2 separate regions of the Homo sapiens genome follow, and region 2 is linked to region 1. Evidence: fine-mapped expression QTL. A gene starts in region 1. The other region holds a variant in brackets. All regions are shown on one strand. Distances are from middle to middle.

Region 1 (8,000 bases):
CCTCTGCAGCAGGTGAGCGTCAGGACCCAGGCTAGTCCCCAAACCCTGCCTGAGAGCCACCCCGCGCTAAGCACCGGTTGCCAACAACCTACCGAGGCTGGGTGGGGGCTGCTGGGGCAGCAAGTAGCAGGTGAGCACCTTCTCGCCGGTCCGGGCATCATCCTCCGTCTGGAACCGGAGCATGGGCTGCGCCTGGTTCTCTGCCAGCCACAGGGCCTTGAGATTGAGGTGGGTGAGCGCGAACGGCAGACTCTGCAGGCTGCGGGCCGGGCGGGCACAGTCAGCAGGCGTTGGGGCCACGGTTAGGCCCGCAGGGCAAGGCTGGCACTCACCGGTTCCCCGCCACGTCCAGCACGTGCAGCTCTGTCGTGTGGGCCAGCTCTGGTGGCAGGACGGCCAGGCGGTTGTCCCTCAAGGAGAGGACGCTGAGTGCCACACAGCCCCCGATCTCGGGCGGCAGCGCCTCGAGGTGGTTCCGGTCCACGTTGAGGTTGGTCAGCTTAGTCAGCTTTCCCAGGGAGCGGGGCAGGGCCTGGCCAAGAAGAGGAGGTCAGAGGACGCTAGGGGCTTGCTGGGGGTGGGAAGGAGATGACAGCCCCTGGCAGGAGGGCACAGACACCCCAGGCCAGCTCCAGCCAGGGTCCCTCACAGCCCCTGGAGACCGGGACAAGGACCTGACCACAGAAGCTGTCTCCACCCCACTTCGTGCCCTCTGCTCCCCAAGCTCTGCCCACTGCCCTCAGCCTTCAGTCCCCACCACCAAAACACCCCACCAGGTCATCCCTGACCCTCTCCCATGGGTGCCCTGGACTGACCTGCGAGGCTGCGCCCTGTGAGCCTGTCTGGTGCCCCACTGGTCTGCCCTGTCATCCCTAGGGCTCCCCAGGCCCCCAGTTCCAGCCTGCCTGCTCAGGGCCAGCCCCTTCCCAGGGCCCTGAACCCCAGAGTCCCTTTCTCCATCTCCCCAGTGAGGAACCCCCCCGGAAACTCCCATGAACACCCTCCCCACAGCTAGCTCCTGTTTCCCAGCCTGGGGATGGGGATAGCAACACCACCGTCCCGAACCGTGGCCTGGTGCCTCAGCTTGCCCTGCTTTGTGAGGGGCAGGCAGACGCCCCTGGGGAGCAGCCTGCTCTCCATCTGTCTTCCCTACAGACAAATAAGTTCCCATTCCTGCCTCTTCTGTAACCGCTCCCCAGTGTTACAACATACAGCGATAAACACGAGACCTAGATTCTTCACGGTAAACGGCAAAGGCCCCTGCCCTGGCCTCACTGCCCCGCCTCACCTCCGGCCAGCATGCTCCCCCTCTGACAAGAGAAGAGCCCTTCCTGAGTGGCTCCACGTCAGGCTGCCACCAGCACCCCCCAGCAGCAGACACAGGCTGATGCCCTGTCCTTGTTCTGCACCCCCGACGGCCCCATCCTTTCTGCCTCCCAAGCCAGACCCTACCATCAGCAGGTTCTCCGTGAGGATCAGCTCAGAGAGGTTCTCACAGTCCCCGATGGCCTCGGTCACCTCGCACAGCCGATTCTGGTCTACCTTTAGGATGGATAGCTGCTTCAGCTGACCTGGCGTCGGGGAGACAGGGGGACAAGGCTGAGCATGGTCCCCAGACGTGCCTTACCCACCTGGCCAGAAGCGCCCTCAAGGCAGACAGCAAGGCCCCCAGCCCCTTCTGCCGCCGCCGTACTTCGGGAGGACCCTACCTACCTTGCCCCACAAGCCTGACCCAACCTCCTTCAAGAAAACACCAGGCCCCAGTGGCACTGCCACCCTTCCGCCCTCACAGACTCCACCGCCCCCTCCAGCACCACCAGCTGCCTCCTCAGCCTTCTGGGCTGCCCCAGGGTCCCACCTCCCCTCCCCAGGGACAGCTCCCAGAGCCTGGGCACACTCAGGATCCTCCCCTGTGTTCCACACCACACACAGCCCCGACGCCCCACGCTCCTCCCAGGGCCAGGCTCCGTGTGCCCCACCCAGGCACCCCCAGGCACACTAACCGATGCCGTCGGGCAGCCTCCGCAGCAGGTTCTGGGACAGCAGCAGGTCAGTGAGCAGCACCAGCCCGCCGAGCTCAGCAGGCAGCTCCTCCAGCCGGTTTTCCGACACGTCCAGGCACACCAGGCGCCGCAGGTTCCCGAGCTCCTGCAGGTGGGCAGAGAGTCAGAGCGCGGATGGGCACGAAGCAGGGGGCCAGCCCCACCCTGACTCACCGGGGGCAGTGCTGACAGCTGGTTCCGGTCAAGCCACAGCTCCCGAAGATTGGGCAGAGCCCCCAGAGTGTCTGGCTGCAAGAAGGAACAGAGAAAATAGTGACTATGAGGCAAAGCCTCCTGCTGCGCCGTGCTCAAGAGACTATACGCCCCCACACCCAGCTCCCACCCGCCTGCCCTCCCGAGGTGCCCCTTGCTGTCGGATCTGCTCGCTGTCCCCTTCTTTGCCCTTGCTTCCGTGGCCCGCCCTCCGGTCTCTGCCCTGTCAGGCCTCCACGCACCAGCACTTCCAGATCGTTGCCTCCCAGATCCAGCTGTTCCAGCTTGACCAGAAATGACAGGGACCTGCAGAGGAAGCAGGGTGGAGGTGTGGCCACGCAGCCCTGGTCCCTGGGCTGTGGCCCTGCCCTGGCTGTTAGGAGAATGCCTGTCACACTCACGCTGGCAGGGACTTGAGCAGGTTCTCCCGGAGCTCCAGGGTCACCAGGTTGGCGAGGCTGAAAGAGAGACCAGGCGCTGGGGCAAGAGGAAGGAAAGCAGTGGCAGCAGGGGCAGGGCCAATCCTGGTCCCCCACCCCACCCTAGTTCCACCTGAGAAGGCACTCACTTGCCCACGTCCCCGGGCAGTGCCTGCAGAGACACATCATTCAGGGCCAGGTGAGCCAGGCTGCGCAGCTGAGTGAAGCCATCAGGGAGCCTGGATGGGAGGAAGCAGAGGCCCTCGGATGACCAGTCCAGGGCTGTGGGACCCATAGCCCCTACCGACCCCACCACAGGCTGCCACCCACCTGGAGAGGGGGTTCCCGCTGAAGTCCGCGATCTCCAGAGCCTTGCAGAACTTGATGCTCTCCGGGATCTCAGGGATATCTGTCACAGAGGGTCACAGTGGACAGATGCCATGGCCTGCAGGCCGTCTGCAGCCCCAGCGGACACTCCCCAGACCCCACCCAGCCCCTGCCCAGGCTCCCCACCGTTCCGGGACACGTCCAGCTCCACCAGCTGCATGAAGTTGGCCACCTCGGGAGGCAACCGCTGGATCTCGTTGTCGCTCAGGCCCAGCTTGCGCAAGTTCAGCAGCCGGAAAAAAGGCTGTGGGCAGGGAGGACACGGACTCTGTGGCAGAGACCACTGCAGAGCAGAGAAGAGCTCCTGGACACGTGAGTGTCACAAGTCAAGAGTCCCTAGGCCTCTGTCTGCTCCAGGTCACACCGGGTCCTGGGGTCTAACCACGACACCCCATTTGCAAAAAAAGGAAAGAAACACACGGTACACACGCCCACTGTGGCTGCCTCCCTCTACTCTTCACACCAGCCTCCACTCTGAGAAGACACCTGCTGGCGACCAGACAAAGCCCCAATCCCCTACCCTGTGTCTTACCTCAGGGCCCACCCAGCCCCTGAACCACTTCTGCCACCCTCCAGGGGCCCACACTGGCCTCTGCTACTGCATCCTGACAACAAGCCTGGCCTGGTTCTGCAGCAAGAACTCAGTAAACGCTCCCCACAATAACACAGTACCACAGGCACAGTGCTACGCGCGAGGCCTGCAGGTGGCCACAGAGGACCGAGCTGTCACTGCCACGGCCAGAACAGGGTCACATTCTTTGGGACACCCAACCCCTAGGTACTGATCACCCAGCACCCCATCTCCAGAAAAGAAATACTTTTTAATCTGCTTTCTCCAGCCTCCTTTCTTGTAGCAGCCTTAGGAGAGCACCTGACCACGAGAAGCAAGGGTAAAGAAAGGGGGACAGCGAACAGATCCGAGAGCAAAGAGTACATCAAGAGGGCTCCCCCACTCACCCCTGCACCCAGCAAAAAAGGAGAGGAGGTCTGGACCCACCTCCAGAGCGGCCCAAGAAGCTAGTACTCATCAGCCACCTGAATCCAAGTTCCACCCTAACCCCATCCACCTCCCTGAATCCCCACGGGTTTCACTCTGAGGCTCCGCCTCCAGGCTCGGTGACAATCGCTATCCCCAGGCAAGCACCTGATGACCGCTGCCACCTGCGCCAGCCAGGGCGGCTGGAAGAGAAGGGTGGGGCTGGCTGGGGTGGGGACCTGGCCAGTGCAAACCAGCAGGGCCGGCTGGAGGCTGCGGTGACTCGCCCGGGCAGATTCTGCCGCCGGAGGAATCACGGGCTGGGGGCGCGCCTTTGGGCGGCAGGTGCGGGCGGCCGCTCACCTTGGGCAGCTCGCGCAGCTGGTTGGCGTCGAGCAGCAGCTCCTCCAGGCTGCGGCTGTAGCGGTAGATCTCCTCCGGCACGGCCTGCAGCGAACAGTGCCGCTTGTCCACCGACTCCACGTGCCGGTTGCAGCGCCACAGCGGGATGCACTTGAGCATGGTGCGGGTGGGCGGCGCGGGCTCCGGCGGCGGCGCTCGGCGGGCTCGGGGCCGGGGGGCGGGGCTCAGTCCGCATGGGCGCCGCGCATGGGGAGGGGGCGCAGGCAGGGGGCGGGCCGCCCGAGACTGGACGGGGACGCGGCCGCGGCCGGCGCTGGGCCCGGCCCGCGCTCGGAACGCTCGGACTGCGGGCCTGGGCAGGGGGCGCGGCCCGGCGGGTCTCAGACTCTTAGGAAGCGCGGGGAGCGGCGGCGGCGGCGGCTCCGCATCCCGCTTGGTCCTGCTCAGCTCGTCCCGCCCGCTCGTCCGCCCGCTGTGCCGCACCGGAACCGCCGCTGCCCGCCGGACTGCCCCGCCGACACCCACCCGGCCGCCGCGCAGCCCGTCGGGAAGCCGAGTCCGGCCCTCGCCGCCTAGCACGCCCGGACTGCGGCCCCCAGAAGGCCCCGCGCGCCGCCGCCTCTGAGGACCCGTAGCGGCACCGCGCAAAGCGTGCCGGGAAGCCGGGCCCGCCCCGCGCGCGGGATATTGGGAGCTACAATCCACGAGAGGCGGCGCCCTCCGCCCTCCGGTCTTCAGCCCGGCCCCTGGCCCCGCGGCATTTGGCCACGAATCTTAACGCACAGCCTCCTCCCGGGAAGCGACCATGCCCGCCCGCCCGCCTTGGACGGCCGGCTCTGCGGCACAAAAGCACTGGCAGCGCGCGCTGTCCAGCGGGTCGCGGTGTCCCGGTGCCCAGCCTTCTCTCAGCACCACCCTGCGGGGACGGCTGCGAGCCCGCGCGCGAGAGCCTGGCGCCCCAGGCAGCCCCGCCCACCCAGCCGCCGCCACCCGCGGGACGGGGCCCGGGGCGCCAACCCCCTGCCCAGGTCTCGCCCACGGCAGGCCCCTCCTGCCAACAGGAAGCAGGTCCAGAGACCCCCCCAACCCTGCCTCCTCGCCCTAGACCCCCTAAGGACACACGCCCAGGATCGGTGACAGGACCGACGGCAGACACACGGACGTTCAGGGCCAGCAGCATCCGCACCTTTATCCGCACTGTAGGCTGGGCTGGGCAGAGCGCGCCTGGCCCCGGGGACACCACTGTATCACTATAAAACCCAGAGGAAACAAGGAACAAGTGCAAGTCCGGGGAGAGGGACCACTGTCACGCAGAGAGGTCACTGTTATCAAAACGCTCCTGGTCGTACACTTCAGCCACCACCTTGCGGCCAGCAAACCAGCGGCCATTGAGGGCCTGGATGGCCTTATGAGTCTCAGAGGCTATGGAAAACTCCACAAAGATCTTGACAATGATTTCTGCATCCTCCTCCTCGCCTTGTTTCTCTTGGTAGATGATGACGCGGTTCACGGCCCCGAACTTGCCACACTCCTCTGTCACCTCCCCTTCCAGGTCATCATCGATGTCCTTGGGGTCCACCATGTTGCGCAGAACCATCACTGTAGACTGTGGGGCAGGGCCGAGGGGAAGACAGCTGAGCACTGCGGCCCCGCCCCCCTACCCTCTCCCCCGCCACCACCCTGCCCCTCTGCCTACCTCCTGCTTGCGGAGCAGCTTCTGCATCACCATGTGTCGGGCGCTACTGCCCGAGATGCTCATGTGCTCCTGCTCGCTCAGCATCTCTGGCCGCTCTGACTCGGGAAACAGCTCCTCTTCTTCCTTCTCCTTCTTGGGCTCCAGGAGACCCAGCGTTGGAGGGCTGGCCAGGATGGGGTTCACCACTCCCACCGAGGGGATGGTGACCGGGATAGGAGGACGGGCTGGGGTCACACCTGCAGGAAAACCAACCAGGTCCATCAGTCACTCCCTACCACCCCCCTTCCCAGAAAGGCACAGAGCTGGCCTGCCCTGGGCTCAGAGGGTTGTGCCCAGACCACCAGGGCCAGGCAGCTGAGGGCAGCGAGCCGAGAGATGCCAGGACAGGAGAGGAGAGGATCTGGTACCACTTAAGACTCACCTGTGATGACTCCAGGTGCCTGGGCAGCCATGACAGCCTGGGGCAAAGTGCCCAGGGGCTGGGCCAGGGTCAGTGCTGGGGACACCAGTCCAGGTGTGCCCAGGGTACCCAGCACCGCTGCTCCGGCCACTGCTTCCTGCAACCCAAAAGGTCACCGTGCTCAGTCCCTGGTCTGGCTACTCAAGACCACCTTGAATCAGTCTCCAAGGAATCAGGGGCCAGCCCGCCCACCCTCAAGCCGACAGCTGTGTGGGCCCTCACCTGAGCTGTGATCTTGGCAGTGGCTGCAGCAGCTGCCACAGCAGCGGCAGGTGGGAGGCCTCCAGGCGTGGCTGGTGTGAGTAGGGGCATGGGCGGTGTGACAGCCTTGCCCACCCGCAAGTACTGGCCACCCAGGTCAAAGAGGTTCATGGAAGACACAGCATCTTGGGACGACTGGGCCTTCTCGTACTCTGTGGGCAGGAGCAGCAGTGAGCAGGGCCAGCCCCAGCCTCAGGTGGCCCCCATCCCGCCTCAGCCACCCCAGCTCACCAATGAAGCCGTAGCCCTTGTGCTTGCCAGTTGTGGGGTCCCGGGCCAGTGTGCAGGACTTGATCTTGCCAAAGGCCTCAAACACGCTCTTGATGTCATCGTCTGAGAGGTCCTGGTGCACAGAGGCCACGTAGATGCGGTTGAAGGCCCGTGCCTCCTCAGCCAACTGGTCTATGATGGGCTGGGCCTGCCCTATGTTGCTGGGTCTGCCCACCTGGGGAAGAGGCGGTGAGATGGAAAGACCGGTCAACCCAGGCCCGGCCACAAAAGGCTTCCGTGGAGGGGCAGCCCTGCACGCCTGCGGGATCGAGGCCTTGGCTCCCTGCCTCACCTTGATGTTCCTGCCCCCCAGCATCACCGAGTTCATCTGCTCCAAGGCCAGCTGTGCAGCTTCGGGGACCTCATACTCCACGAAGGCAAAGCCCTAGACACAGGGACACACCTGTCAGGCTGCGCGAGCCCAGGGGTGGGGGCGAGCCCGAAGTGGCCGGGGCGGACCAAGCCTGCTGACCTTGTGCTTCATGGTGACGGAGTCCCAGGACATGTCGATGCTCTTGATGGGGCCAAAGGGGGCAAAGGCCTGGCGGATGGTGTCCTCCCCCAGCTCATAGTAGATAGAGCCCACGTAGACGCGGCACATGATGGCCAGCGCCCGCTGCCGCTGAGCCGCCATCTGCAGCAGGACAGAGGGGAGAGAACCGCTGGCTCGTCAGGGGCGGCAGGAAGCTGGGCAGCCCACTCCCCTCCTGGCCCACCCACCCAGCCCTGCTGTGGGGAGGGCTCCCCACATGACAGGGAGGTGCGGGCTCCATCCCTGCAGTCATAGTGTGGGGGTCGCAGGACCCCGCCACCCAAAGAAGGAAGGCCAGGCCCAGCGGCAGGACAGGACGCACCCCAGCCCGCCAAGGTCCCAGGCAGACTGCGGCAGCAAAGCCGACAGATGGTCAGGAGG
Region 2 (15,848 bases), 25 kb before region 1:
ATTTATTTTGTATCCTGAAACTTTTCTGAAGTTGTTTAGCAGCTGAAGGAGCTTTTGGGCTAAGACTATGGGGTTTTCTGGATATAGAATCATGTTGTCTGCAAACAGAAACAGTTTGACTTCCTCTCATTCTATCTGGATGCCTTTTCTTTCTCTTGCCTGATTGCTCTGGCTAGGACTTCCAATACTATGTTGAATAGGAGTGATGGGAGAGAGCATCCTTGTCTTGTGCCAGTTTTCAAGGGGAATGCTTCCAGCTTTTGCCCATTCAGTATAATGTTGGCTGTGGGCTTGTCAGTGCTTACTTTCTTGCTTTTCTTTTTTTCTTTTTCTTTTTTTTTGAGACAGAGTTTCGCTCTTGTTGCCCAGGCTCTGGAGTGCAACGGCACAATCTTGGCTCACTGCAACCTCCGCCTCCCAGGTTCAAGCAGTTCTCCTGCCTCGGCCTCCTGAGTAGCTGGGATTACAGGCACGTGCCACCATGCCCAGCTAATTTTGTATTAGTAGAGACAGGGTTTCTTCATGTTGGACAGGCTGGTCTCAAACTCCTGACCTCAGGCATCTGCCCACCTCGGTCTCCCGAAGAGCTGGGATTACAGATATGAGCCACCGTGCCTGGCCTCTTGCTTTTCTTTATTCCATCATTAAATCATCCCTCCTTTATTCATTCACTTTGTCATCCACTTACTCATTCATCCATTCATTCCTAAACATGAGTGCCTAAATAATATAGCTTTGTTTCACTGTGTTTGAGCTTTATGTAAATGAATTTATATGGCAGCTGTTCTTTGGTATCTGGCTTCTTCTATCACAGGCTATATTCGTGAGATTCAGTCTTGTTGCCTGTAGCTAAAGTTCATTTACTTTCATTGTTATGGAGACTTTAATTATATAAATGTCTGCAATATATTTACCATTTTACTGCTGATGAACGTTCAGTTTGTTTCCAGGCTTTGGTTATAATGATGCTGCTATGAACATTCTTGTATGTGTCTCTTGGTACATATGTGCACAGTTTTCCAAAATGGTTGTACCAGTTTATCCACTCCCACTGACAATATGTTATAGTCCCACTGCCCCATGCTCTCCCAGACATTGTGATTGCCAGTGTTTTTTAATGCAGACTCATGGTGGATGTGCCGTGGTGCCTCACTGCAGTTTTACCTTGCATTTCCCTGCCAACTAATGAAGTTGAGAACTCTTAGGCATATTAGCCCCTTAGCTATCTTTTTAAAAGTAGTACCTGTTAGCATTAGTGACCACTTTTCTCTGGGTTGCCTGATTTATTTTCCTTATTGCTCTGTGGACCTTATTTATATATTCTAGATCAAACTCCTTATCAATTACATGTATTATAGGTGTCTTCTGTCTTACTTGCCTTTTCACTCACTTAATGTTATAATTTGATGGAAAATTTTGTTTTACTGTAGTAAATTTTATCATTCTTTTCCTTTATGGTTGGTGCCTTTTATGTCAGTTTAGAAGTCTCTCCATCCTCCCAAGGACATAAAGATATTTTCTGGTGCAGTCTTCTACATCTTTCACATTTAGAGCCATCATCCACTAGAATAGACTTCTGTGCGTTGTTTTGGTCCTCCTTGTGCAAGGTCATGTTCAAGCTTGTTTATTTCTCATATGGATGCACAGTTGTCCTGAGAGCACCCACAGTCTTTGTGAAAGACTGCCCTCCTCACTCTACACCATCAACTGTGCCCTAAGTCAAGTGTCTATATACTTATAGCTCTGTTCTGGGATCGCTGTTCTGTTCCATAGGTCTATTGATCTATCCTGTGTCAATACCCATGTCTTGACTACAGCAGCTTTATAACAAGTCTTGTACCAGATAAAAGCAAGTCTTCCCACCTTGTTTTTCTTCATGCTTGGGTTTTGGAAAGTTCTCAGTCATTACCTCTGTTTCTGCCCTTATTCTCACTCTCCAAATATACAGATGGTAGATCTCACCATAGCCTCTACATTTCTGTATCAACCAGGATAGACTAGGATGTTGCTATGTTTTGGATCTATGTCCCCACCCAAATCTCATGTCAAATTGTAATCCTCAGTGTTGCAGGAGGGGCCTGGGGGGAGGTGATTGGATCACGGGGGCTGATTTCCCCATGGTCTTCTCACAATAGTGAGTTCTCATGAGATCTGGTTGTTTAGAAGTATGTAGCACCTCCCCCTGCTCTCTCTTCCTCCTTCTCTAGCCATGTAAAATGTGCCTGCTTCCCCTTGGCCTTCTGTCATGATTGTAAGTTTCCTGAGGTATCCCTAGCCATACTTCCTGTACAGCCTGCAGAACCATGAGTCAATTAAACCTCTTTTCTTTATAAATTACCCAGTCTCAGGTAGTTCTTTTTAGCCATGTGAGAATGGACTAATACAGATGTGCTGTGGAACATGCAGTCTCCAAATCTCAATGGTATAAAACAAAATGAGTTTATTTTTTACTTATGCTACATGTCCATTGAGGGTTAACAGGGGGCTTCTGCTAACTGTAGTCTGTTAGGGACCCAGGCTGACAGAGCAACCACCATCTTGAATATTGCTGGTCAGTATACCAGAGGGAAAGAGCTGAGGAGGGTCTAGCACAAACACTTCTACTTATAGCTCATTGGTCAGATCTAGTCATTTGGCTCCACCAAAACCACAAATTGGTCAGGAAGTGTAATCCTATACTATGTCTAGAAGGTGGAAGGACGGACATGTTTGATGATCAGCACTAGTAACTTACCACAGTTTTTTTACCCTCTTTTCTGTATTTTCCATCCTTTTGTTTTGAGTTTATTCTGGATATTTTCTTGTGACATGTCTTTCAGTTTACTAATTCTCTCTTCAGCTGCATCTAGCTAGTTATTAAATCCATGCACTTTGTCCTTAATTTTGGTTATTTTAATTTTCATGTCTAAAATTTTATTTGGTTCCAGCTCTCTGCTAAAATCAATCTAGTCTCTCTTTGAGCACAGTAAATATAGTTATTTGAAAATCTGTAGCTAACTCTAATATCCTGATCCCTTGTGGAGCTATTTCTATCATTTGTAGTTTCTGCAGATTTTTGTTTATATTGCCTTGTATTTTCCTGTGCCTTTGTTCTGTATCTTTTTTTTTTTTTTTTTTTTTGAGACAGAGTCTTCCTCTGTCACCCAGGCTAGAGTGCAGTGGCATGATCTCAGCTCACTGCAACCTCTGCCTCCCAGGTTCAAGCGATTCTCATGCCTCAGCCTCCCGAGTAGCTGGGACTACCAGTGTGCAGCACCACATCAGCTCATTTTTGTATTTTCAGTAGAGATGGGGTTTTGCCATGTTGGCTAGGCTGGTCTTGAACTCCTGACCTCAAGTAATTTGCCCATCTCAGCTTCCCAAAGTGCTGAGATTATAGGCGTGAGCTACCAGACCCAGCCTTTTTTATTTTTTATTTTCTTTGAGACAGGGTCTTGCTCTGTCACCCAGGCTGGAGTGCAGTGGTGTGATCACAGTTAACTGCAGCCTTGACCCCCTGGGTTCAAATGATCCTCCTGCCCCAGCTTCCCAAGTAGCTAAGACTACAGGCTTGAGCCACCATGCCCAGCTATTTTTTTTTTTTTTTCTCTGAGATGGAATCTTGCTCTGTCACCCAGGCTGGAATGCAGTGGCACGATCTCAGCTCACTGCAACCTCCACCTCCCAGATTCAAGCAATTCTCCTGCCTCAGCCTCCCAAGTAGCTGGGATTACAGGCACGCACCACCACACCTGGCTAATTTTTGTATTTTTAGTAGAGACGGGGTTTCACCACGTTGGCCAGGCTGGTCTCCAACTCCTGACCTTGTGATCTGCCTGCCTCAGCCTTCCAAAGTGCTGAGATCACAGGCGTCAGCCACCGTGCCTGGCCTAATTTTTTTTATTTGTTTGTAGAGACAGGATTTTGCCATGTTGCCCAGGCTGGTCTTCAACTTCTGGGCTCGAGCAATCTGCATGCCTCAGCCTCCCAAAGTGCTGGGATTACAGGCATGAGCCACCTTGCCTGGCCATGTCATACGTTTTACTGGTAGGAATCATTTGAAGCCTAGAAAGGTATTTTTCACTCTTTTTTCACTGAGGATTTAGGTTTTGCCATGTATTGGGGGTACCAGCGGTCTGGAGTCACTTCACCAACTTCAGAGATTAAGATGATTTGAAGCTAAGCTGAAGTCAACCTCACTCGGAGGCTACTGTCCTTAGGACCCCAAAGTGAGGATCAAATTTGCATATTCATAAATTCCTTCACTCACCCACCCACGTTTATATTTGCAAATTTATATTTACAAATATAGACAGAATCATTGATAAATGTGCAGAAGAATGTGCATAAATGAATACATCTATATAGTCATCTCTCCTATGTGTTTACCCATTTATCTGTCCAAACAATCAGGTATATGCTAATGTACGAATTAGCTCATCCGTTCATGATTAGCCCAGCCACTGGACCAACTGACAGAAGACCTGAGCTGGGAGCTGTTCTAGGTCCTTAGGACCCATCCTTGAACAAAACAAAGTCCCTTCTGTCACAACTCACAGTGCAGTGGAGATGCCAGGCTACCAGGGCGGGCAGGGCTGGGCTGGAATTTTAAGAAAGGTGGCCAAGGTGGGGTTTGCTGAGAAGGTGGCATACAAGGGAGAACTTGGAGGGGAGGGAATGAGGGCTGTGAACGCCTGAGGAGCTTCCAGACAGGAGGACTGGCCAGTGTAAGATCCTGAGGGGGACAAGGAAGGAGCCCCTGTGGCTGCCAGGGAATGAGGCACAGAGGCTGGAGGATTTGGGGGCTGATCGAGGAATACAGGACCAGGAGAGGGCGGTAGCACGCAGTGAGCTTTATTCTGGTGGCACTTGGACAGGTTTTCACGGAGGGCTTGACGCCTAGGGGAAACTGCTCAGAAGCAGGATGGGGCACCAGGGAGCTCCAGAGGGCAGCCCAGCCTGAAGGCTTTTGTAGCCCCAGGGTTTGTCTCATCCACCACTGGCAGACGTGGGTTCAGTTTTGCAGGGTATTCAAAGCAAGCAGGGTCGGTCTAAATGTCTAGAAGTATGCATATTTGGGCTCTATTTAAAGCAAATGTCTGTGTAAAATTTTGATTTTGGCCCTGGTGGGCTTTGAACTTTTGGTCCTAGCTGCTGGGAAGCAGATAGCACAGGGCAGTCCTCAGGCCGTGGTTAGCCTGTGGATCCATCAGGTGGCCGTGGAGGTGAGTTTACCACGTGTCTGCATGTCCCTGGCCCCCCACAGACCTGCAGGCCCCCTACACTGCCCCTTCTTTCCATCTCTGCCCCCTGCATCTGTAGACAAATGCTTAAGTCAGCACCGACTCAGCCAGGATGGCAGTTACCCAAGGCCACGCCGCGCCACTGCTTCTCTCCCTCTCGTCTGCTGTGTCTCCCTCCCTCCCGTGCATCTGTGAGTTCTTCCCAGTTCTGCCCACATTCAGTCTCCCTGTTTGCACTTGTCTGTGGCCAGTCTCCTGGAAGAGCTACAGGGAACTCATCCTGCCCCCGCTCTTTCCCCTCATCCTGTCTTCATCCTTCCCATGCCACGAACCCCTTGCTCTGTGGGAACGCCGGCGGCTCACCCGCGCACCCCACCTCCTTCCCCTCATCCTGTCTTCATCCTTCCCACGCCACAAACCCCTTGCTCTGTGGGAATGCGGCCGCTCACCCGCGCACCCCTAACGCAGTGCCTTCTGCTTGCTCCATGGCCCGTGCCTGTCCACCTCCACCTGGCCCCGTCGCCAGGCCTGCCACACCTTCTCGGTCTGCTCTTGGTTGTGGCACCCACCTTCAGCCACCTGCTCTTCTTCTCCCAGGCCTCTGCTCTCCAGCCAGCAGCTCCTCGGGCCCCGACTGTTTCGCAGGCCTAATTCCGAGTATGAGAGTCTCCCTGCCCCACCCGGCCCTTCTCAGCTACCGCCTTGCCTCCTTCCGCTGTCATCCAGCTATTAGGGAGCTGGCCACACTAGACAACAGGCCCTGGTCACCCCTGCTTCCCAGAGCAGGAAGGGGCAAGTGGCATTCACACACGGAGCCACCCACGAACAGCTTCCTGGTCAAGCGTGATGCCGGGACTGGCCCGCCACCAGGCGCATGTGGACCTGCTCTGAGCTCCTGCTCTTCCTTCCTCCTCACTGTGACCCCCTCCAAGCATCACCCCTGCTCCACAGACAAGGAGGGCCAGGCACAGGAAGTCAGGGACTCACCCGGCGCAGCTGGGCTTTGAGCCCGGCTCTCTGCACCCACTCCTTGCTCCTGGAGTGCTGGGGACTCAGGAGGGTGAGAGGCAGCGGCGGCCCCAGGGATTGTGTCCTGCAGGCAGAGATCTGTGGGAGACCACAGAGGAGGGAGCTCCAGTGTGCACATCCTGCGGGCCAGCCTCCTACTCAGGAAGCAGCAGTGGCACCCAAGGCCTCAGGCGTGTACTTGAGTCTGACAGAGGCGGGAAGCCTGGGCCAGGTCCTGGGGGACTGAAGGGGAAGGAAGCCCTTGGAGGCCCAGCCACAGGAGCAGGTTCCTGCTTGGACTTGGTCAGGGAGCCCAGGAGAATTCCCAGCGGCCTGGGTGGCCTGGGCTTTGGGGACAGCAGCCCCACAGGGGCTCATGCTTTGGGGCCCACCACGCACCAGCTGTGAGCACTGAGGCCCTTTCTGCATAATGGCACCCTTTCTCCCAGATGGGAGAGCAACAGTTCCTCTCCAGGCTGAGGAGACTCGGAACACGCACTGAGGGCCCGACAAATGTCGTCTGTCACTAGGTGGCCTCACTGGACACAGTGGTGAGCGTGCTGCGCTCGTGGGACCTGAGCCTCACGGAGGCCATGCTCCAGAACATGGAGGCTGAGCAGCAGCGCCGGGCCCAGGAGGCCCAGAGGCACAAGGAGGCCGAGGCTGAGCGGTGTGGAAGGCAGGAGGGGTGTGGGAGGTGCTGGCGAGGGGTGCTGGCAAGGGGCGCTGGCAGGGAGCCCGGGCAGGGGGTGCTGGTGGGGGCGCTGGCGGAAGCCTCTGTCCCAGCTCATTCCTGCTCCTTAGTATGACCCTCAAGGTCCAACAGCTGACCAGGGAGCAGCAGCAGTGTCACAAGGAGGTGAGTGTGACCTCAGGGAGGAGCCAGGAAAGGAGGAGGGAGAGCCGGGTGGGGAGGAGGGGGAGCCGAGGGAGGGCCAGGAAGCTGGGGGAAGAGCCAGGAGGGGAGGTGTCCTCAGGCCCCTGGGCCAGGAGTGACCTGGTCGGAGGATACTGGCCAGCCTTGCCAGGGCCTGCCCGTACGCCCACCCAGCTGCAACAGGCCTACTGTGAGCTTAGCCGGAGGATCTCAGAGCACGACCAGTGTGAGTGGAGGTGCATGGACAAGACCAAGCTCACGCTGCAGGTGGGGGCCCGTGGTGGACTTGATATGCCCCTGCGTCCTCAACACCCCTCCTTGTTCCAAACCAGCCCAGAGCTCCCCGCTCCCAGGCCTGGGGTTTTTCCCTCTCAAACATGGGGAGTCACCAGCCGACAGTGGCCTGCTTGGGGTGGGGTGGGGAGGAAGCTCGGGCAGCTGCCCTCTCCAGCCAGAGCATGGGGCAGGGCAAGCAAGTCAGTGTGGCCTCCTCCTCCAGGCCATCAAGGACACAGAGGCCCAGGTGGACAGGCTGCGGCAGGAGGCCCAGAAGGCCGAGGAGGCGCTGGCTATGGCCAGGCTGGAGCTTCGGGAGCAGACGCAGGAGGGTGGGCCTGGCATGGGGCGCCGGCTGGGGGCTGGGACATACAGCCCAGGGCGGGGTCCGGCGTCGGGCTTGCCTGTCAGCTGCACTCTGCTACCCCGACAGGGGAGGAAGAGGCGCCTGGGCTGAAGTGCCAGGTCACCGAGCTGCACGATGTGCTGATGAAAGATGTAGGCAACCGCATCCGTGCCGATGGCCGGTCAGTTCTCCGGGCCAGACGTGGGCGATTTGGGGTTTGGACAGACAGCAGTGACCTGATGGGTGTCCCCAGGTGGCCTCTTGTTATTGACCCTTTGGGCCAGGCGGCCACCTTCCTGCGCTACCAGGATACCAACTATGTGGACACGGTGAACCCGGAGCCCCTGAGGCCGGAGACGATGTGGCTGGCTCTGCTGGGGGCTCTGCGGTGAGGCAGGCAGGGTGACAGGTACACCCCACCCCACCTCCCTAGCCCCACCCTGGCCTCACCAGCCTCATGGGGCAGGTATGGGAAGCCGCTGGTGTTCGACCTGCGAGAGGAAGACCTGTTCCCAGTCGTGCAGCGGCAGCTGGAGGCGGTGCAGGAGAGGTACCTGTCGCTGCTGCGGCCCACGGACGGGCCTGAGTATAGCCCCACGCAGTTCCAGGAGCAGCGGCTGGAGCACTTCCGCCTCTTTTTCGTCACCAAGGTCCAGTGGCCGCCAGCTGAGCAGCTGCAGGTGCTGCTCCCAGTGCGCGTGCAGCTGCCAGGCACAGGCCTCTAGTGCTGGCCCCAGTCCCAATAAAACGTGTGCCCCGGGGCGCGGTGCTGCATCTGTGCTGCGTGCGTGGGGGCAGCGGTGGCGTGTGCCAGTCCAGGACTCCGGCAGTCCCGGGCCCCGGCCGGCGGACATGGGTCTGCAGGCACTTGGGGGAGGCCCTGCTGGGGATGGGCAGCCTGCCCGGCCGACCCGTGCGCAGTGAGGCGCAGCGGGAGACGTGGGAGGGACGGTGAGGGTGCAGCCCTCGGAGCTCAGCCTCGCCTCGGAGGGCAGGAAGGGTCTGTGCTAGTGGGTGGGGGATGGACAGGCAGACGGGAGGTAAAATGTAGTCAACTTTATTCTCCTTAAACCACAAAATAGAGTCTTTGGTTGTACAAACATCACTAGTTACAGTCTCGCCGAGGTCTCGGCTGGGGTGGGGCAGTTAGTTAGTCACAGGCCAGAACTCCTGTGGGGTCTCTTTAAAATGCTAACACCCAGGTTAAAAGACTTGGGGCAAGGGTGGTGCTGGAGCTGGCAGGGCCCCCACCCCAAGTCTGGGGGAGGTGCCTGCTCCTCTAGGAGGGCACAGGGCCCAGGCCACGGCGCCCAGGCCTTACGGGGCGGCGGCTGCTGCACAGTGCCACATCTTCAGGGCCCACAGCGCCGGGTGAGGGCCTGCCCAGAAGCACCAGAGCCACTTCTCCATCCTCCTCCTGCGGGCCTGGAGGGCAGGGACAGGTGGGCAGTGAGCTGAGGGCAGCTGGGCTCCTGGGAGCTCACCCCAGCCCGGCCCCAACTCACCAGGGCTGGGAGATGGTTCCAGGGACCTCAACTCCTCAGCAAAGTCCGGTGACTGTGATGGGGAGAGTGTTGGTCAGGCCGGTGCCAGCCCTGCCCCAAACCACCCAGGTGGACGGGTGGGCTCCCAGCCCTGAGGCCCACAGAGCCCGGCTGAAGGGGGAGGGGGGGTGAAGAGGCAGGGCCACGGCAGAGCGTGGGGAGGCCCTGCGGGAGCGGATGGGGGCGGTGGCAGGCACGGACAGGGTGGCAGGCATGCAGAGGCCTGGAGGCCAGGTACCTGGATGTCATAGACAGGTCTGGAAGAAGGCAGGGCCGCAAAGGCCCTGTAGTCAAACTTCTTTCCAGACAAGGGCTTGAAAGGACAGCGTGAGGGGAGAGGCAGAGAGTGAGAGGAAAGGGGGGGATGAGGGCCACGGGGGTGGGGGCAGGCCAGACCCCACCCCCATGCCTCGGGGGTGAAGGGAAGGCATAGCCACCGGCTCCTCACCAGGCGTCCCGGGGAGGTGCTGGTCTGGGGGCCGAGGTCTGGGGGGACAAGAAGCGGGCATTGGAAGCAGCCCATGCGGCAGGCTGACCCCCCCGACCTGCCCTGACCCACAGACCTTCCACAGGGGTGGGCGACGGGGTGGGCGCAGGGGAAGGGGCCTCGGCCAGTCGCTCCAGGGGCCCCCGCGTGCCCCGGCCTTCCTGGGACCTGCTGAGGACCATCTGTGCTCGGAGAGCGTCCTGTTCCAATGACTTCATCCTGCAGAGAACAGCGGGCAGGGGTGACTTGGGGCAGGAGCAGGGACAGGCAGCAGGGCGGGGTGGCGACCCCACACAGGGGCTCACCTGGCTGCCCTCCACAGCGCACGCTTCTCGGCCTCCAGGGCCCGGAGCTCGGCAGGGGACAGGGCACGCTCGGGTGCCGGTGGCTCCGGACTCTGCACGCGCAGCCGCTCCTGGTGGCGCCGTTCAGCTTTGGCCGTCCGCACCGGGGCGCCACCTCCCAGGGGTGGGGGGGACGCCGGGCTCTGCCTGGGGAAGGGACAGGACGTGCTGTGGGGGGCAGGGGCACGTGGGGTGAGTAGGGGGCGTCTGGTGGGCGGGTGCTCACCTTGAGGTGGGGCTCGGGCTGGCCCAGGGTGGCTGCTCATCCTCCTGTTCCTCCTCGCCCAGCGTCTCCCCGTCCAGGGCGAGCCTCGCTTCGGCCCCAGCCTCTGCCGCCTCCCGCAGCATCTGCGCTCTCTTCTGCTGTAGTTTTCTGGCTGCCGGAGGGCAGGGTGGGTCAGGCCAGACCAGCCGAGACCCAACCCCCACCCCACTTCCGTGCCCCTCACCTTCCTCCTCCTGCATCTTCCGCAGGTCGTCAGCACCCACCAGGGACACGCGCTTAGGGGGGCCCTCGGCCTGGGGCACGCGCACCTCCAGCTCAAAGTACTTCTGCCGCTCCCGGAAGGACAGCTGCTCCGGGGAGGCTGCAGGCCCAGGCGTGGGGGGCTGGGGGGAGCGGACCTTGAGGTTTGGCTGGCATTCCTCCGAGATACTGGGGCCCCCGGGCACCCACCCCAACCACGCGCAGCAGGGAGGCGTGCTGCCCCCACACACCTGGGCAGGGGCATCCTCAGGCGGGTGAGAAGTGGGCACGGCCGCGAAGGCCCTGTAGGCCTGCTTCACATTGGCGGGCAGCTCATCCGGAGAAGGCGGGGAGGGCGGCTGGGGGGTGGGGCTCTTGTGAGCTATGCTGGGGCAGCTGTCGGGGCTGCAGCTGTGTGCAACTCACCACCGGCTGTCCCCCCGCCTGTCCCCCCGCCTGCCTTTGATCCCCACCCACCATCCTGCTGGGGAAGGAGGCTCTGCCACCCCCACCCACGGGACAGAGCACTCACGGAGTGGGGACAACCTCTGCCCCTGGGGGCTGGGGAGCCCCTTGGCCAGGCCTGAGCCAATGGCTGGATCACCCCTGGTTTTGTCTAAAAAAGGCAGGTGGGGGCGGCGGGGGCAGAGGAGAGCAGGATCAGGGGTTTAAGGCAAGGGACGGGGGTAGAGAGGGGGGTGGGAGAGACAGAGAGAGAGAGACCGACCAACCTGGGTGGGGCTGACATCTTGCCTGTGAGGGGCTGAGCTGGGGCTGGGTCTCATGGGGGCTGCCACCTCCACCCCCACGTGGCAGTGTGTTGGGAGGTGCCAACAGTGGGGGGGCAA[G/C]GACCCCCAGACAAAAGGCAGGCAGGGATAAGGTGGGCCCTGGGAGGTGTTGGGCCTGAGACACTGACTGGGGTCTCAGGAGCTTGAGCCCCTCCAGGAACAGCACACTCAGGCCCCCCACCCCATCGCCAGGCAGCTCTGGCCAGGAAAGCGTCCCTGGCCTTCCTCACACAGGAGGCCCCATGGTAGCAGAGGGAAAACCGGAGTCAACAGCACCCCACGATGGCCCCTGACCCCCCATCCCTGGAGGAGGGGCCCTGTGCACAGCGGCCATCTGCCCTGCCCTCCACCCACCATGGGGCACACCCGTTAACTTGGGACACTCACCTGCTGGCCACTAGGGGAGCAGGGAGATTCAGCCATCTTCCCTCCAGCTGCTCCAGACGGTACCTGGAGGAGTAGGCAGTGGGTGGGGTGAGGATGGGCAGGGCTGTGGCCCCCGACCAGGAGGGACTGGGGGCCCTGGGGCTTGCCTAAAAGCCACAGCAGCTCTTCAGTTCCCCAACCTGACTATAGCCCAGGGGATGCCCCAGACACTCGGTCAGCACGGAGGGGCTCGTCCCCGTTCCCACAGGATGCGGGGGCCTGGGCTGGGCAGCTGCTGTCTCCATGGCAGTGTGCTGGCTGGAGCTTTGCAGGAGAGATGGGAGCAGACAGGACAGCCGGAGAAGAGAGCAGGGAGGGCTCGGGGGAGGGGCCAGAGACAGAGGTGATGGTGGGGAGCCCCTACTTGTGGTGTGCAGCCCTCAGGGCTCAGTGGCGCCCTGACTGCTGCCCCCATGACTGTGCTGTTGTTCATGAGGATGAAGGGCCTCCCGGAAGCCTCCCTCTTGGCGCTGCCCATGGCCAGAGGAGGCAGGGTCAGTACCCAAGAGCCCCCGAATGCGCTGCCTCAGATCCAGGCCCTGCCTGGCCCCTCACCACCACCCCACCGCTTGGGCAAGGGCCTGCAGGAGCCACCCCTCGGCACTCACGTTCGGTGGGGCTGGTGGGGCGCACCCTCTGGGAGGGTTATTTGTATCTCTAAGGGGAGGGATGGGCCTGCACATCCTCCTGCCTGTCCCCAGCACCCGCCCCTCCAGCTGCTCCAGCCTGTCCTCCCCTTGGGGACATGTGCCTGCCCAATCCCCCAGGAGCCTCTGCCCCCACTCGCACCCTCTGGGGCTGGGCAGCCCCAGCAGCAGCAGGTGAAGCTCTCGCACCGCCACTAGAGGGATGCCTCGGCCTGTGTCACCCATCCGCAGCTCAGGGTGTGTGGGTGGGGCAGCACCAACATGGCTTGGGTTGAGAATGAGGGTGATAAGCATGTGCCAGGCTGGGGTAGCCTGCAGGTCAGACGTGGCCTCCTCCCACCCCAGCCCCCGCCCAAAGGTTCCCTCCCGGATGGCCCTGGCGTTTGTCCTGGGGTGGCCGATGAACAGGACAACAGGACGGAGGTGGGGGGCACTGCACACTGGGCACTCACCCTCTGCACGCTGCCAGCGCTGGGCACGGCGGCCAGGGCGCGGTAGTCCAGCTTCAGGGGCTGCAGACCCCGACCCTGGGGGCAGAGTGAACACAGCACTAGCAGGGGTAGCTCCGTGGCAGCACCCGGCCAGCACAGGGCAGGAGAGGGGGTCCTGGGGGTTACTACCCAGCACCCCACAGGCAATGTGCACCCCGCTCCAGTGCCCTGATGTGAGGGGGTGGGGCGACCACACTCACTGCGGCTTCTGTGGCCTCGGGCCCCCAGTGCAGGGTCTGTCCAGGCAGCTCCTTCTCCTGTGAGCAGAGCAGAGCAGACCCGTCAGGCACCACCGGCCTCGGGCTCCCTGGCCCTGGGGCTGCCGGCTGCAGGCACCTCTGACCTTGCCTGGGCCCTCAGGGCTCAGCTCCCGGTCGATGGAAGAGATGCTCTCCAGGCTGTTCCGGTGGCCGATGCCTGCCGCAAAGGGGTTGGCAATGACACCTGGGGACACCTGAGAAGAGGGGTGTGGGCTAAGAAGGGGGGACTGCAACCCGGGGTCCCACCTCTGGGGCAGGCTGGGGTCCCAGCCCAGAATAGTCAGCAACGGTGAGCCCAGGAGCCGCGTCCCTGGGCAGGGCTGACCGCGTGGCTGGGGCAGCCTTGGAGGGCACTCCGCTGGGCCCCCCAGGACGCTGCAGCACTGTCCCCGGCCGGTCCCCATCACAGCTCACAGGGCTGCCGTGGACGTGGTCACGTCTGCACTAGGCAAGACTGTGAAGTAGCATGATGCCTGCCACTCTGCTGACTGTGTAAAGTCATCCCCAGGAAGAGCTGACAGCCACCAAGATGGGGGAAGGAGGGGCGTGAGTAGCAGGCACTGGAACTGATGGGGCAGAACGGCCCCCTCGGGTGGAAAGGCTGGCTCCAGACCCCAGTGTGAGTGCTGGGCAGGGATTCTGAAACAAGGGACACCATGCAGGAGGCCCGGCCAGCTCTGCACTCCCCAGAGCTCAATCACCTGTCCCAAGCCAGAGACTGGCAGGGCGGAGGGGGCGTCTAGAAAGGAAAGGCACTCAGATAGCTCAGGCAGGGCAGAGGGGGGCGAGGAGACAGGGCCAGGACAGGCAGGGGCTTCTGGTTGGGCACAAGATGTACTTGAATCCCGAGCCTGGGGTTAACACGGGCAGAGGGAACCATGGGAAGAGCTGACTTCCAAGCCTGCGGCGGGCAACGGGACTGCTTCAAACCTCCACCCCCAGCAGCAGCCAGAAGCAGCGGAGGAGGCAGCACAGTGGACACAGGCATTGCTCACCGCCCTCATCACAGACGGGGTCCCTGCAAAATCGAGGAGCTCTCAGTGTGGCCTCAGGGACAAACCCAGCCCTGTACTGTTGGTTAAAAACACAGCTGAAATGGTAAGTAAGGGGCAGGCAAAGAGATGCCAGGCAAACACACGGGAGGCACAGGGAGGGGCTGCTCAGGCCGGGGGAGAAAGGGTGTGAGTTCAGAGCTGTCGAGCAGGCAGACGGATGCCGTCACCACAGAAGATGCTGTTTACAACGATGATACAGTCATCAACTGTAAGCGCTCAACAAGGAAGCAGCTAAACACAGAAAGCAAAGACTAGAAACGCGAGTGTCGTAAAAGCACAGTTACACAGGCAGACTTAGCTACGTCTCTTTCAGACTCACAGGACTAGCGGGACAAACAACAAACAAGGTGCCTGTCTTCTCAGTTTCTGAAATAACAAGTCAAAAAGCCACTGGGCAGGTCCAAGAGAGGCAGGGGTCCTGGCAGAGTGGGAAGCAAGGTCCCAGGTAGCCCGGCCTCTCATGTCAGAGAGAGCTGTTCAAACACAGAAAAGGCAGACCCGGGTGCTGACTCCGACAGCCACTAGGAGCTCACCCTCTTCTACTGTTCCAAGAATAACCTTGGGAATGACCGGCATACCCTCCAGCTCTGGCCCCCAGGAGGTCCCGAGATGACACCCCAAGAACGCTGGGTCCAGGGCCAGACCACAGCTTCTAAATGTCACTCTCCACTAAAAGGATCCAGCGCTCCTGAGAGAAAGGGGCAACTCCAGGGCTGGGCAGGGTATGGAGAGAAGCCCAGCACATCCTGGAGGCAGAAGGTGAGGGGCTGCTGAGAGAGGGGAGGTCGTGTCAGAATGCCTCAGGTCCTCAAGCCCCTTCCGTGGGCCAAGGCTGGGACAATTTGAGCCTCAAAATAAATTACGATGGTAAAAGGCTGTCGCCCATGAAATAAAATGGAAGCTCACTTGTTAATGAAATGGACTCCCTTGTGAGCCCACGTGAACAGGTAAGCAGACACACATAAACTGGGAGAAGGGAAGGCTCGGTGGCAGGAAGCTGCCTGATGAGTATGGCAGTGGTGGGTCAGGAATGTCGCCAACCACCTCGGGGCCCGCTCAGAACCATCAAGGTGCTGAGGCTCACAGGCGAAGCTGGATGAGAAACAGCCTATTATATGCTCTCAAAGCACCTTCCTCACTTGCTGATTTCAAGGGGCAGGAGTAACTGCAGGGGGAAACCTGGCTGACCCCACGGTTCAGAGCATCACCAGTGAGCCCTGGTGGTAGGCACACAGACACGTGGTAGCTCCATGATAATCCCGGCCAAGATGCACACGCTGAAGCCTGTGAGGACATCAGACCCAGCGTGGGGGCAGTCACTGCAGGCAGGGCCTACGCCCAGCAGAAGCGTCAAGGTCAGAGAAATCAGCAAAGACAGAGGCACGCTCCGACCGAAGGAGACTAGAGGGATGCGGTGGCCAAGCCCCACAGGGATCGGGCCGCGCCCTTCCACGACGGAGCACGTCCCCGGCGCAGTGGGTGAGCCATGAATAGGGCTGAGTGTCAGAGGTTCTTTGTCCTGTTTTTGCAACTTTTCTCTAAGTTTAAAATTCATTTATGTATGTGCTTACATTTTTCAAAGAGAAACAAATGGCAGAATAAACCAAAACT

Evidence for each region. PIP is the estimated chance that this variant, and not a neighbour inherited with it, causes the effect.
Region 2: its variant is fine-mapped to the expression of SCRIB in whole blood (TOPMed, PIP above 0.99). The same link has a PIP of 0.9 or more in thyroid and tibial nerve.

What each region holds. Positions count from the first base shown.
Region 1 is chr8:143,810,814-143,818,813 of GRCh38, forward strand. It overlaps SCRIB (scribble planar cell polarity protein), which reads right to left and starts at 4,960. Exons shown (of 37, transcript NM_182706.5): 1 at 4,401-4,960; 2 at 3,188-3,305; 3 at 3,005-3,083; 4 at 2,824-2,913; 5 at 2,657-2,713; 6 at 2,498-2,561; 7 at 2,217-2,291; 8 at 2,004-2,148; 9 at 1,453-1,571; 10 at 333-532; 11 at 93-259; 12 at 1-3. The coding sequence starts at 4,559. PUF60 (poly(U) binding splicing factor 60) reads right to left here. Exons shown (of 12, transcript NM_078480.3): 6 at 7,560-7,721; 7 at 7,380-7,472; 8 at 7,049-7,262; 9 at 6,779-6,969; 10 at 6,518-6,653; 11 at 6,097-6,332; 12 at 5,531-6,006. The coding sequence ends at 5,707. MIR937 (microRNA 937) reads right to left here and starts at 2,229; the gene lies at 2,144-2,229. RefSeq lists enhancers at 3,338-4,002, 4,287-4,919, 4,920-5,552.
Region 2 is chr8:143,782,155-143,798,002 of GRCh38, forward strand. It overlaps IQANK1 (IQ motif and ankyrin repeat containing 1), which reads left to right. Exons shown (of 14, transcript NM_001381874.1): 8 at 6,761-6,909; 9 at 7,035-7,089; 10 at 7,282-7,374; 11 at 7,607-7,715; 12 at 7,817-7,910; 13 at 7,983-8,117; 14 at 8,196-8,491. The coding sequence ends at 8,454. It overlaps SCRIB (scribble planar cell polarity protein), which reads right to left. Exons shown (of 37, transcript NM_182706.5): 25 at 13,266-13,376; 26 at 13,123-13,179; 27 at 12,884-12,958; 28 at 11,746-11,808; 29 at 10,822-10,929; 30 at 10,554-10,713; 31 at 10,331-10,481; 32 at 10,066-10,251; 33 at 9,837-9,979; 34 at 9,722-9,759; 35 at 9,512-9,586; 36 at 9,235-9,286; 37 at 8,771-9,154. The coding sequence ends at 9,009. Among named protein-coding and RNA genes, the nearest start is that of MIR937, 23 kb to the right of the region's middle. The variant G/C (reference allele first, on the strand shown) is at 11,419.